Regions from separate parts of the Homo sapiens genome. Here region 2 is linked to region 1. Evidence: fine-mapped expression QTL. A gene starts in region 1. The other region holds a variant in brackets. All regions are shown on one strand. Distances are from middle to middle.

Region 1 (2,899 bases):
CGAATTTTTTTAAGTCTTGCAAGCAGAGAGAGCATGATATTATTCAAAACTGCTCAGGAGCAGCAATGATTATTTTAAGCTCATGATTCAACGGGTACATTAATTAAAAACTCCACCAACCCAAATTCACAGATCCGGATATCAATGAGACCAGAAGAATTAAAATAATAGTTGTCATTTAATAATAGATTAAAGGGGTGAACAACAGCAGATGTCAGAAGGACAAATGACAAGCAAGCAGGTGTCGTGGGAAATGAATGCATCTAAGGGGCAGCTTTTATGGATGTTTAATAAAACGACGATGCTGGAAATACGGGTATACGGGTAGTGTCAAGAAAAGCTTGTTCACAAATACGGAATCTGATTTTTGGAAGCTGGGTGAGAAAACTTGGCTAATAATTCCTCGCTGAGGAGTAGCGGTGGAAGAAGGAAGAGACCGCAAGCGCCAAAGCGCCAAAACAACGCTAGGTGACCGGGAAGGGGCCGAGGCGGAGAGGGGAGAGGGGTCAGGAGGTGCGGGGTGCGCGGCGGCAGCGGGTCTCTCACCGGCCGGCGAGAACTTGACAGCAGGCGCCGGTGTCCAGCACTCCCCTTCCCTCCCCAGCTCCTGCCGGCGGGCACCTGAGCTCACCCCGCTGCCGGCTCTCGCGACCCCTCGGGGAGGCTAACATGCGCCCCACAAGGTCGACGTTCACCTCTACCTTCCTCGTCTTCTTCCAAGCAAACGGGAAGCTCTCTGGGATGTCAACGCCCGGCAATAGCCGAGCGGGAACCTTTTCTTCCCTGACATCTGTCAAACCCGGAGCTGGAGCCAGGCTCGCTGCGCCCTCCGCGGAGCTCTGGGACTCCAAGGCCGGCCCGCACCCGGGCTCCGGGCGACATCCCCAGGCCGACGCGCACCTGCCCGCAGACCCACGGGGCATCCTTGAGGGCCGCCCAGGACCTGGACGGCACAGGCCCCACGAAAGTTCGCAGGCTGGGGTCGGCCCCGTGCCGGCCGGGGATTCCCGGGTGCAGCGCCAGCCCTGGCTACAGGGCCGAAGGGGCGGGCGGACTTGGACTCCCCAAGCCCGACGGAGACGCCCTCCCCGCCCCCACCCAGCCTCGCGGGCTCCCGAAAGGGAAGTGAAGCGGGGAGGAAGGGCAGACGCGGCACCGTTCGCCCAACGCCCTTGAGGGGCAGCCACCAGGCATGGTCCCCTCGGGGATCCCCGAAGCTCCCGGGGACACATCTAGGAGTCCTCTTCGGCCGAGTCACTGCCCCCAAGGGCAGAGCTATCCCTTTAAGAGGCAGCTAGCTGCCCCCTCCCCCCGCCAGGTAGCGATGCCCGCGGAAGGGCGGTGGGTACTCCAGCGAACACTTTCCCGGCCCCTTTAAGGGCTCCTGCAGCACCTCTGCCTGCCCTAGCCCGCAGCGGCAGCCCCCGCGAGGAGGATGGGGGCGGACGGGCGCGGCGCCTTTAAGGGGCGCAGCCTCCCCACGGCCCGGGTGGGGGCAGGGAGCGGTCACGGGCCCTTTAAGGCCGGCAGCGGGCACGTCGGGCAGGGTTCTTCGGCGGCCGGGTTGCCCCCGGGGCGGCGGCAGGGGCGCAGCGCCCGCGAGGGTGCTAACGGCCCCCGACGGGGTGCGCGGGATCGCGTCGCTGGCCGCCGCCGGCCTGACACTCACCGTGGCTCGCCGGGAGCGCCCGCGCCCGCGCCCGCACTCGGATCCCGCGGCGGCGGCGGCGGTGAGTCCGGCGCGGGTAAACAGGCACCTCCGTCCCTGACCTACTTTCTGCCTTCCCTAAATGTCGCACCACTAACCTACTTTCCGACCAATCCGCTCCCCGCCGGCCCAGGCCCGGCCCCCCGCCCACCAATCGCTGTGCCCAACCCCCCTTCCCCGCCCACCAATGGAGGAGCCGCAGCGCCCGGATACCTGCCTCTTCCCGCCAGCCAATCCGAACGCCCGAAGGGAGCCGGTCCCGGCGGCCGCCCCCAGCCAATCCGCGCGCGGCTCGGCAGCCCGCTGGCCAGTTGTGTGGCGGCTAGAGAGGCCGCTGACCAATGGCGAGGCGGCGGGAGCCGGTTTACCTGCTACTTTCCTGCCACCAATCATTTGGCGCACAGGAGCGCACGCCCCGAGGAGAGGACCAATCCGCGCGCGCTCCCTGGGTTCCTCGCCCCTGCCCTCTCCCTTTCCCCTCAGGTCTCCCACTAGCCGCGGCCACTGCGGTGCCCAAGCCGCGCTCCTCGGGGTCGCCCGGGATGTCCCTCTTCTCTGGGTCCCCTGCCGGCTGGCGTTTGGCCGCCCGCCCTCACCCCTCCTCCTTCTTCTTCTCCCCTCCGGGCATTCCGACGAAAAGCAGCAGTTCCTGACTCCCTCTCTCCCTCCGGCTCCATCTAGGAAACCAATTTTAGGAACGTTGAGTGCCAGACCCTTCCTAAAATCCCTGGTTTGCCAAAGTCTCAACGAGAGAACGGATACTTAGTATTTCTAGAAGGCATTTCCACCCCGAGGACTGCAAGTGTTCTCACGTTCTTTGCGTTCATCATGACCTCCAAGTGTCCCACTGGAGCTGTCATTCCCGTAGTTCCAAAGAGAATACTCGAGCGCGGAGCGATTCCATTGCATTTCCTTCCAGTAGCCAGGTTTTGACCACTTACTGAAGAGTAGACACCAGCCCCGCGGCAGCGCTCTCTGCTGCAAAAAGCTGTCTACGGAGCAAGACGGAAGGAAACAGTTACAGAAAATAAAAATTTGATAACGACATGCGACTCGGTTGCTGAGAGGACAGAGAAAGTGACTTATTTTTGCATCTCAGGCACTTTGTAGAGGGCCTTTAGCACAAAGAACTCCCGGCTCTTCCAGATGTTAAACTCCCTGAATAGAAGGACAGCGTCTTCTTTTTCGTTA
Region 2 (2,899 bases), 61 kb before region 1:
CTTCCAGGAGCTAGAGATGCCTCATCTGTGAAAGGGGTGGATTCCCCGCACTGGGTTGTTGTGCAGACCACATGAGTTGAATAGAAGAAAACACCTAGCATGCTCAGTGGCGTCCACTATGGCCATGGAAGTGGATGGCCTTGTGCTGGTTGAAAAGGGAGAAGGCTGGGAAAAGTGATGTCAGGAGATGCAAACTCAGGTTGAAATCCTGGGGATACAAGAACTCAGAGATGGTGAGAGCAGGGGTGGCAAGAGGACATGAAGGAACTTAAAGCTGGAGAGATCCAGGACATTGACCCCTGGGAACGAGGAGGGAGTTGAGGAGAGTGGCTGCAGGGAAGGCTACAGGTATCCTGGGGGTGGGTCTGGAAGGCATTCCAGAGCGCAGCATTTCATAGCAGGAAGCATTGAGGACTCCAAAGAATCTGAAAAGTGAATAGAGTTTTAAGAGTCCAACCGCTTTGTTTTAATATAAAACAGAGAGACAACTCCTCCTGTGAGAAGCTTGGACTAGGACAATGAGAAAGGTCAGTGGGATATGAATAACAGAATTTTGGAGCTGCTCAGGGAGATAAGATGTAGAAAGCAAGGACAATGATTTCCTTAGGGAGACGAAGCCCACAGGAGGAAAAGCGGAACCCAGCAGGGTGACAGCTGCTGCTGAGGGGTGGGCTGCCCCAGGGATTCTGGGGTGACATAGTAGCATCAGCTAAGGATGCTGGGGGCATCTCTTATGTCCCACCCAGCACAGGGTTTGGTTGACTGGCAAGGAGGCCTCAGACGGCTACCACTGCCCCAAAGCCTTGAGGCAATCCAACACAGTTTATTGAGAACCCACATATGCCAGGTAATTTCTTCAGTGAAAGAATTGGTAATTTGAGTAAATTTCCACCACAAACTGCTTGTAGTAGCCAAATTTCAATTCGGGACAATTTTGTAATAACGAAGACACTGTTGGCATGCTGGCCCACGATCACTTATTAGTCTCTCAACAAATATTTACTGAGGGCATCCAAGTGCCAGGCACTGTTCTCCATGGCAGTGCTGCAGATGGGGGTAGGGATATAAAAATCCTTGTCCTCATCTGGCACACCTCCTGGTGAGGAAGGCAAGCAAACGAAACAAGTAAGTTATGTCGGGTGCTGGATGGCAGTAAGTGCTCGGGAGGAAAGTCAGAGATGGGGAGGAGGCAGACCACAGGAGGGAGGCAGTTAGAAAGGCCCCAAGGAGGCTGGACAGGAGGAGGTGAGAGGTGACAGATGTGTTCCAGGCAGAGGACAGCTAGTGAACAGGGCCGCAGGGAGCTGCCCAGTGCTAGGGGACCAGCGACCTGGGGCATGCTAGGGAGAGGAGACAGCTAAGGAAGGTAGGGGTGCAGTCAGAGGGCCAGGTGTGGGGGCCTGCAGACCCCAGTAAGGATCTTGGCCTTGACTCTGAGTAAAATGGGGAGTGACATGATCCCTCTTAGGTTTTAAGTCTGGCTGCAGTGGTGAGAAGATACCATGTGTGTGTGTGTGTGTGTGTGTGTGT[A/GTGTGTGTGTGTA]AAAGCAGGGCAGGAAGCTGAGTTAGGAGACGGCTACAACAGTCCGGGGAAGAGATGCTATGACTCAGCCCTCTGTATTAGGTGTGGGGGTGATGAGAAGCAGCTGGATTCTAGACATATTTCCAGGGGCTGTGCTGATCAATGGGATGTGAGGTGTAAGAGGAGTCAGTCTGAGTGGCCACGGCAGGGTGACAAAAAGTCAACTCTTGCTATGTTCTGAGAAGTTGATTCTTGGTATGCTCTAAAGGAAAAGCCAATGGGTTTCCTGACGGTCTAGACATGGGGGTGACTCCCAGTCCATGAACTGCACAAAGGCCCCCAGCCAAGGGGGCAGCTAGGGCTGCAAAGCCACTTGCCAGGTACATGCCCCATGTGACAGCTGGAGGAAGAGGTCCCTGTACACCATCCACCCATCCAGGGAGGAGCTGCTGGTTTGGGACATGTTCAGTGTGGGATGCCTATGAGATGTCTAGGTGACACCACAGGCCCTGTTGCTGTGAGTGGAGGTGAAACAGAGCAGTCACCTGCCACCCCCACAACTCTGAACACTGACCACGTCCCGTTTACTGAGCATCAAACACGTGCCTAGGATGGTTCCTGCCCTGACGTGTCTCCTTTGGTCCTCGTAACGACCTTTTGGGGGAGGCATCGACATCACATAGAAGATGACACTGAGGCTCAGAGAGGTATGGCAACTTGTCCAAGATCACACAGCTGAGAAGGGCTAGAGCAGGGACTGGAACCCAGATATGCCCACCTCCAGGCTGGGACTCTGCACATGCTCTATTGCTTCAGTGACTCAGCAAATAAAAGCAACAGCTCTGTCCCAAGTAGGAGAAAGAGGGCAGGGCAGGCTCATACCCATCCCTCCTCCCACCTACGGGGCAAGGATATCAAAAACCAGTAACAAGGACATGAATAACCAATGGGCTGGGGGAATGGCACATCTGTTCAATGGGTTAACTAAAAGTTAGCCAGGTGATCCTTTCTGTTTAAACGTGAACAACTGAAAACCTTTCTAAAATGCACTTGTCCATTTGCCTGGCAAGTGCACTTGGAGGAAGATGATGTAATCTATAACGAGTCTCGGGATCTTCCCAGCCCTAGATCTAAAATGTTCGTCTGAATGTATCCTGCCTGACCCCAGAAATAACTCTACAAATTCCTCTTAATGAAAATGAAATCGGCTTGTTTTTTTTCCTTCATTTGTCTCCTTCTGGCAAGAAGAATTTAAAAAAAAAACCCACAAACTTCAGTGATTTCAGTTTCATTTTTCTGAGCTTTGGATATAGTGAGTATCATGTGTCTGTGGGTCTGAACAGGCATGAGTCGTACAGCTCAAGGTCATTTTTCTGAGAAAATACTCAGT

The links. PIP is the estimated chance that this variant, and not a neighbour inherited with it, causes the effect.
Region 2: its variant is fine-mapped to the expression of BMAL1 in monocytes after LPS (Fairfax 2014, PIP 0.95).

What each region holds. Positions count from the first base shown.
Region 1 is chr11:13,276,694-13,279,592 of GRCh38, reverse strand. It overlaps BMAL1 (basic helix-loop-helix ARNT like 1), which reads right to left and starts at 1,803. Exons shown (of 20, transcript NM_001297719.2): 1 at 1,670-1,803. RefSeq lists silencers at 793-1,132, 1,413-1,482, 1,553-2,202.
Region 2 is chr11:13,338,062-13,340,960 of GRCh38, reverse strand. The region is part of intron 3 of BMAL1 (basic helix-loop-helix ARNT like 1); the gene reads right to left. Among named protein-coding and RNA genes, the nearest start is that of BMAL1, 62 kb to the right of the region's middle. RefSeq lists an enhancer at 2,528-2,697. The variant A/GTGTGTGTGTGTA (reference allele first, on the strand shown) is at 1,531.